Linked DNA regions of Homo sapiens: all the other regions are linked to region 3. Evidence: fine-mapped expression QTL. Tissue or cell type: fibroblasts. Region 3 holds a variant in brackets; each other region holds the start of a gene. All regions are shown on one strand. Distances are from middle to middle.

Evidence for each region. PIP is the estimated chance that this variant, and not a neighbour inherited with it, causes the effect.
Region 1: TSPAN12 starts here. The variant in region 3 is fine-mapped to the expression of TSPAN12 in fibroblasts (GTEx, PIP above 0.99).
Region 2: it holds the start of CPED1, and the variant in region 3 is fine-mapped to the expression of CPED1 in fibroblasts (GTEx, PIP above 0.99).

What each region holds. Positions count from the first base shown.
Region 1 is chr7:120,856,476-120,859,162 of GRCh38, reverse strand. TSPAN12 (tetraspanin 12) reads left to right here and starts at 1,019. Exons shown (of 8, transcript NM_012338.4): 1 at 1,019-1,343; 2 at 2,330-2,465. The coding sequence starts at 2,400. It overlaps LOC124901733 (a long non-coding RNA gene), which reads right to left and starts at 2,328. Exons shown (of 2, transcript XR_007060491.1): 1 at 1,955-2,328. RefSeq lists silencers at 1,365-1,664, 1,857-2,076.
Region 2 is chr7:120,987,064-120,989,750 of GRCh38, reverse strand. CPED1 (cadherin like and PC-esterase domain containing 1) reads right to left here and starts at 1,040. Exons shown (of 23, transcript NM_024913.5): 1 at 839-1,040; 2 at 1-360. The coding sequence starts at 129. RefSeq lists an enhancer at 1,785-1,864.
Region 3 is chr7:121,083,750-121,086,436 of GRCh38, reverse strand. All of the region lies in intron 5 of CPED1 (cadherin like and PC-esterase domain containing 1), which reads right to left. It also overlaps the pseudogene RNA5SP241. Among named protein-coding and RNA genes, the nearest start is that of CPED1, 96 kb to the right of the region's middle. The variant TAG/G (reference allele first, on the strand shown) is at 1,366.

The sequences.
Region 1 (2,687 bases), 230 kb after region 3:
TTGTCTTTTGGTCTTGACTTTTCCATATGAGACTGCATGTCTTATTGTCACTCCAGTCATGCAGCAACTAACTCTAGACAGGCAGTCATGGACATAGGATTCCATTTTTTTTTTTTTTTTTTTTTCTGCAAGGAAATCCAAGGACTCCAGTTATTAGGTCAAAGATGTTGCTCGTATTCCAGGTAATTCATATTTGCTGGTGAAGTTTTATTTGCCATGCAGTGCCCACAAAAGTAATCCTAGAAATGAGCAGTACTGTGAGGCATAGCACAACACATCCACATTTTATGTGGAGGATATGATCCAGTGGCATTTTATTTAGTGTGAAACTTCTGTCTTCTAAAAGGGAAGATTCTTTTGGAAGGATGGTCTCCTGCTGTGTAATACTTCATGAATTTCTAGTTTAAAAAAATTAGATTTTCCAAAGATCCACTACTATGTACACATTTCAAAATAAATCACCCAGTTAACTCAAAACAATCTTATCGTGAGAAATTTTGGAAAGCTTGAGTTACTTCTAAGAGTTAAAAATGTTCTTTCCTCCTCTTCTGCATGTCAGACTGCACATGATTACTCTGATGTTTCCGTAAATGCTATTAGTGCACTATGAAAGTGGGAAAGAACTTAAAAAAAAAAAAATCCGGGAGGGCAACAAAGCAATAAGAAGGATCATAGGGCACCATGTTAATAACAAATCACAGGAGGTGGCTCCATAAAGGTTGTGAAAACTAGTTTCTCATTGCAGGAATTGGGTTGGGCCACCCCTTCACCCCCCTTCTCAAACACAAATATTATCATATAATAAAAGCCTGCTTCTCTATGCTTATAACCCAGCCTCCATTCCTTCGACGCCACCATTTTAAAGGGATTTACTGCACGGACTTCTCCCAAGTTCCTAGGCATTATCTTCTGGACCCTATCCTGCAGAGGTGAAGCGTCCCTTTGGGGACTCTCGCTGGGTGAGAGGGACAAGAAACACCCACTAGGACCCAACCCCGGCAGCCAGCGGCTCGAGCATGCGCTGAGAGTTTGTGCAGCTGGCCCTGGCTGCCGCCGCTGCCTCGTCCGGACTCGGAGAGGACTTGGGAGGGACAGCGGCGCTGGGAGGTGGCTTAGCAGAGACTTTCCAGCAACTGCTGCCCAGGACTTTTTTTTTTTTTTTTCTTTTTCCCAGGAGGCGGCGACGGCGGCGGCGGGGGGAGAGGAAGAGAAAGAAGCGTCTCCAGCTGAAGCCAATGCAGCCCTCCGGCTCTCCGCGAAGAAGTTCCCTGCCCCGATGAGCCCCCGCCGTGCGTCCCCGACTATCCCCAGGCGGGCGTGGGGCACCGGGCCCAGCGCCGACGGTAAGTGGCCACGCGTCTGTCGCCTTTCCTGCCCGCTGTCCCGCCAGCCCGCCGGCGGCTGCCCTCCGCGCTGTGTGCTAAACTACTTAAGGGCTGGCTCTGGGGCTCCCTGCCGCCGGCGCTTCCCCTCGCGCCCTGCCGGGGGCGCGCGGACGCGATGGCTGGGTCGGTGGCCGCGCTCGCTTTGTGCTCCGCGGGCGGCTTTGAGCGAGGGGTCGCGGGAGCGTCCCGGGCGGGGGAAGCGGGGTTTGAATGACTAACCCGGCGTCTGCACAGCTGCATCGGCCCTAATTCCCCGGCGCCCCCCGCCCCCCGCCCACTGTCCCAGGCTAATCCATCATTCTGGGGCCGAAAACATCATTTCTCACGTTCTCCCAGAGAAACCCTAGTAGCCGGGCGGAATCTCAACTCCGCGCTGCCCCCTCGCCCCCGCCCCCGCCCCCGCCCCGCCGCCCCAGTCCCTTGCATTCACACCCGAGCTGCGGGACGGGGTAGAGGGGTGCGGAGTTGGAGTGCCCAGGAACTGTCCTAACTAGAAGGGCGCTCATTCTCTCGGGCTTGCCGGTGGCGCCTCTGACGTGTCCGGGGTAGGGGGCAGTGTGGTTTCTCACCTTCAGGACAGTGCCGAGCACAGCTGTCCTCGAGGAGGGGCGTGGAGTGAGGGAGGTTTTCAAGAGCGTCTCATCAGAATGCACAGGGCTCCGCCGCGTGTCCCCTGAGAACGCGAGTTTACTGTGCGACTTCATTCATCCGGATAGTTGCTCTTTTCTTTTCCCAGCAGGTGTTATCTGAAGCCGGTTTGGAACTTTTGGGAGTTTAGTTACCATTATGATTTTAACAAATGATTTTTGATGAGGCGATGTCTCGAATGCACTGGGCCTCGGGACCCTCTGGACCCTGCTGAGGGCGGGTGGAGGAGGGACGGGCAGGCTGTGGGAAGCGTGATGGTGAGATGTCCCGTGTTCTCTCTCCCCCGCCCCCTGCAGATCGCTGCCGTTTTGCCCTTGGGAGTAGGATGTGGTGAAAGGATGGGGCTTCTCCCTTACGGGGCTCACAATGGCCAGAGAAGATTCCGTGAAGTGTCTGCGCTGCCTGCTCTACGCCCTCAATCTGCTCTTTTGGGTAAGTAAGTTTCACTGCACCAACAGGTGGGAACGGCTGGCTCTGGTTTTCTGCAGCCACCGGATAATGCGCCAAAGGGCATGGCTAAGCATTAATTAATTACATGGGATAACACCCTTTATTTTTCAGAGAAGTAAAATTTGACCTTCTTAAAATGCCTTTGATCTAGCTCAAGTTCCATTTGTAATTAGAACAAAGAAATCCACCCCTGGATACTACTGG
Region 2 (2,687 bases), 97 kb after region 3:
GGCTGTGAGCTTCCTCGACCCTCGGAGGGTCAGAGTCTGGTAGAAGAGACAGATTGCCACCACTAAGCCCACCAAGAAGGGTCGGGGGCAAAATCGCCGACGACAAGGGAACACTGGGCGACAGACCATGACCAGTTCAGCTTCACTTGGCCCCTGTCCACGTTGCGGGAAAAGTCATAGCAGCTATTTTTTGTCAGCATGAAAAATACTAATCTGTCTTCTTTTTCCCCAACTCCAATCAAGTTTGCTTCATCCCTGCTTAAGAATTTTCCAAAAGGTTGTGCCAAAGAATCATAGGTCCCGAAAGTCTGAGGCTTTTAATAAGAGCTCTTCCATGGATGACAGTCAAAAGTGGATGACCTGAGTTTAAAAAAAGACATCAAATAATAATAGTTGTAACGAATAACCTGAGTGTACCCCAGGCTGCCAAACTGTTGCTTCCAGCAATGCCTTATTCTCACATCTTTCAACTCACAGTAAAGGAGTCCGACTCTGCCTCAGCTTTGCAGGAAGAGAGAAAACAATACCAAAGTATATCTGGAGTCTGAAAACAGCATTGAAGAACGCAAAAGATTAAAACCCAAAGTGCCTGTTGCACAGCTGAACTCAGGCCAGGTTGCCTTAGCAGTTCCTCAATTTTCCTCCGGTTTTAAAGCAGTCTTGCTTTCAGCCTTTTGTATGCTTCCCTTCATTTAGTTTTAAATTCCCACTGTCCTGTAAGTATTCACGGCTTTTAACATAAAAAGGGCATACGCAATTTGAATGGACATGGTTACTGTCAGGGTTTTTGCTTGAATTTGTTTCATTCCGTCTCAAGTTCAAAGTTCTATGTACTTACTCAGTTTTCATCCTTTTAGCCAGGAAAAAAAAAGTTTCCATGATTTCCTAATGGATTGCTGATGAAAACCACTCGGAAGGAAACACCCAGTCGTATGACTCCAATTCATCTCACACACACACAGAGAGAGACACACACACACACGCACACAGACACATAAACACACGCGCGCGCGCCCGCTGCACGCCCGGCGGGAGCAGAGGACCTCGGCATCGCAGCCACCCGGGGCCGGGCAGAGCGGGGCGGAGCTAAGGCCGGGTTCCTCTGGCCCTGGGGGCTGCTGGAGCAGCGCTGTCAGCCCTGTGTCCGAAACCGTGGGCTTCCCCACTTTGGAAACAGCAGCTAGCATTTCCCCAAATGAGGCTGCCCACCCAGAGCTGCAGAATTTAGAAACGTATCTGATGTCTGATCCTCTGTGCAACTTCTTTTTCCTAATACAGAATTGGAAAAACAAATAGCCTTAGCCAATTGGTGACAAAGGTCGAGAATGAGACTAAAGTGAACTCCATGAGTGAATTGGGATATTCTTCACTCCAGGGAATTGTGGTTACTCTTCTGAGGATAAGAGGGTCACAAGTACTGTCTGGACCTCAGACAGCAAGCACCAGAATAACTCAGTCGTCTCTCTGTGTCTTAGTATGGAACTCAGATCACAGATGTTCTTATTACTCCTTTCCTGGACTAATTAATTGGGTCTTTCAATGATCTGATGCTTCATGGCCTGACATTTTGCTCCTAAAATGAGTCGATTATAGCAGGTGTTGGGGGTAACTTTTGCCCAGTAGATAAAGGTACACAGTGGGCTTTGTCCAGAATCAGCTCAGTCTAATTCTGTGCAGACCTTCGGGTGGACGCTGCTAATAGTGCAATTCTGCAAACCCCCTTCCACTTTTGCTGAGGCTGTCAAGGCGAAAGGAAATCAGTCCTTGCTTTGTGAACTCTGGATACCCAGGGCTGTCTTAGCGCATAGCAGGCATTATTTAAAGGCTCTGGACCTGAAGAGGTTTTCAAACTTGTTTCTAAGCCAAACTCTTGTGGGTTGAGGTTCTCCGTGAGGCCACACCCCTAGAGTGAGCCTCACCCAGAGGCACGCTGCTGTCAGCCCCTTGTATTTTGAGAGACGGAGCGCCCCCTAGGGGTGCCCAGCTAGCACAGATTCAGAGAAATGGGCATCTAGAGTTCCTTGCTTGTGAGAAAGAAACCCTTTTAACATCCTATAGAACAAATTAATTAACACATTACAGAAGAAATATTCACACGGAAGCTGGATTTATCCCAAGCCCTTGCATGTATCGCCTCCAGTGGCTTTAATATTATTTTATGTATAGGTTCAGAGTCCTTAATCTTATGACAAATGGGATAGAGAAAAATAAAGTGATGCTTCACTTTTAGAAGCCAAAAGAGTTTTAAGAGAAAATGGCTGAACAGTGGTGTTGTAGGACATATCGTTTTGGTGGATGCAATGTGATTTGAGAGATAATAAGAATTGTGAGATTTCTAAATTGGAATCCAGGGTGTGACAATGCTGTTACTGAGTGATAAGGAATAGGCAGACAGTTCTATTAAGTTCTGTTAAGGCAAGAAGTCTGAAAAACAGAGTTTGGGGAATCTAAAGAGTCATTCTTATGCTTTATTAAATTGTTGAGAACAAGGTACAGAAGAAAGTAAATCAGATGCTAAAATAAAATTGCCATTCGGTTGGGAGAAATGAAAGACAACAGTATTGAAAATTTTAAGATAATATAGCTAGACTTCAAATAATGGGAATTGGGAAGAAGGTGGAAAATTAGTATCCCAGAAATGATTCTAGTAGATTAAAGAACCCCATTTCCCATTTTAACCACTGAGT
Region 3 (2,687 bases):
CTTAAAATGTTGTTTCAATGGCTTTTAAACAACAAAATACCTTATTAAAATCTTTCCATTAGGTAAGGTTTCCTTAATTAAAACTCTGAGTACACCTGGCACATTTCTCATTTTGCTCTTGGCACAACAAATGTGTAGATTTACCAATAAATCACGTAATTGGAAAAATTTAGATATCATTTTGTGGGTGGTATCTTTGCTTTTTATAGCCTGCTACAAATACAGTTGAAAGTTCTTTCCCTTAAATGACACAAAACTGTTCTAAAATTGGCTGCTGGGCTGACCTACACGGGACTGAGGGAAGGAATGTAGAAACAGAAACATTACAAAATACTGAACTGAAGAAGACAGATTAAGCATAACCTTTCTACTCAACCATGTCATCTTCCTCCCTTTCTTCTCAATTCTGTATTTAGATTCAAAGTAAACCTTCCTGCTTCTGCAATATTTGGATCACAATGGTATAAATAGTTACGGCTTTATATGTGAAGGTTGAATTCAGCTCTGTATCCAAACTCTGTTCGGGAGAAATATTTCAGGCTCAGTCGGGACATTGTTAAAACCCAGGGGTACTAAACACACCATGACAACCCCCCAAATAGGAAATGGTAGAAAATACATCTATTTTTTGTTGTTGTTCTTTTAAACCCTATCGTCAATGAGAGATGACAAGATGCTATTCGGTTATTATTTATCAGTATAGTGCAGTTTTAGTGTGAAACTAATCCATGTTCAATAAGGAGTCCACTGTGTCTGGCCTTGACTGGCAGAACTATGCATGAGGTTTAATAGTAAGGAATCTCTCCTAAAGAAAAAAGAGGTAGATGGCAAGAGAAGCCCAAGGATACCAGGATGACAAAAAAGAAAGGCACTTTTTTGTATGCTGTTCTTGTATTCCACAGGCTCCACTTCCACTCCAGGGTTTAGGTCAAAAGCTAAAACAATACTAAAACATTTTTTTCAAGTTATCTGTGAGATGTTGAGACTATAATATTACATACAATAGAAAAAAATAATAAAGAAGGATTTTGCCTACTGAACTGAAAAAATCCAATTTATTTTTTACTTATTCAGGCTTTGGAAAACTAAAGGGATGACAGGCCCTGGGCAGGACAATGACTAGTACAGTGGGATGTACACCAGCAGTTTGTTTCAGCAGCAGCAGGAGGAGAAGCAGGTACTGCATGAATCTCTGTCCCTGACCCTGGACATGGCACCTCAGCACAGACACAGGCAGCTGCAGCAGCAGGACCGATGCCACATGGAGCCCAGGGGCAGAGTGCCTTTGGTGGGCATGAGCAGTGGTGTACATCAGCAGCAGATGGCCATGGGGGACTCCAGCAGAAGTGGAGTAAACGGTGAATA[TAG/G]CTGTAACAAGTATGAGAGGATTGTACTTATGAATACATAGGAAGTGATCTCTGAGACAAAGGGAGCATTTGGGGCCGTCACTACGATGAGCAATGCTACTGAAATTTAATGGATAAAGGCCACAAATAGATTTGTGCCTTATGCAAGATAGATCTGGTATTTCTTTGGAATGCACTGGTAAGGTATAAAGTCTAACATCTGTTTAAATGGTTAGGCATTCATTCTCATACCACAACAGCTGCTACGATGCTGAGTATCACCCTGTGCAACAACACATTGTCCCCTGTCCCACATAACTTTTGAATGTCTCAATGGATATTGATGTGGATGAAAAGCCAGTTGGTAATTATTTGAACCTAGAGCTTGATGTGGTTTTGCATATAAACTCAGTTTTACTCATTTTAATCAGTTTTATTACATACTGAATTTTGCAGAAATGAAATTCCATGGCCAAGCAAGGGGACACTAAGCTTTGCTTTATTTGTGACTTTCTCCAGAGCTGTTTCCATTTTGGAAAGGCACATCACCAATAGCAATGTGACCTATGGAATCTTAGTTTCCCTCTATGATACAACCACAGCAATTTGAATTTGTAGCTGTCACATTCATGGTGATTCTACAGATGAGTGGAAGCATCTGACTATTTCATTACACCCTATGGTGTAATCGTGCATAAATATTTACACATTGAAATACATGTTGTTATATTATAAATTACTTTCACCTTAATTTTCCTTTATAAAAGAGTTGGGGTATTATACTGGTTTGTTAAAATTATGTGGATAGGCGAGTTATAGATATTTCATTCTGGATCAACCAGGTGTCAATGAATATATATCTATTTTCAAAAGAGAATTTGGAGTCTGATAGGAGTGAGAGAATTGCTTTATGATGACTCAGTAGTGGTTAGTAACAGGATATTAGGGGGAAGGAGCCTGAAAATAGCAAATGTAGGTAGAGGCAAAGAAATATTTTTGTAATGATTTTAGAATCCAAGTTCTATCTCCAGGTTAGTGAGTCTTAAAAACATGAGTCTCACCAAACTAGATTAAAGTCGTAGCTACTAATTATAAACTAACAGTTCTGGAGATACTTATTGAAAAAACAATCATAATACTCAGCATTTATGGGGTGCTCACTGTGCATTGTTCCAAGTACTTGAAATGTATTAACTCATTCTGTCCTCTTAGCAACCCTAGGAGACAGAGTCCTGATCATCCCTACATTGTAGACAGAAAGCTGAAGCACAGACTACAGTCCCATACCACCCTGAAAGTGCTCAATCTGGTCTGATTTCGGAAGTTAAGCAGGGTCGGGCT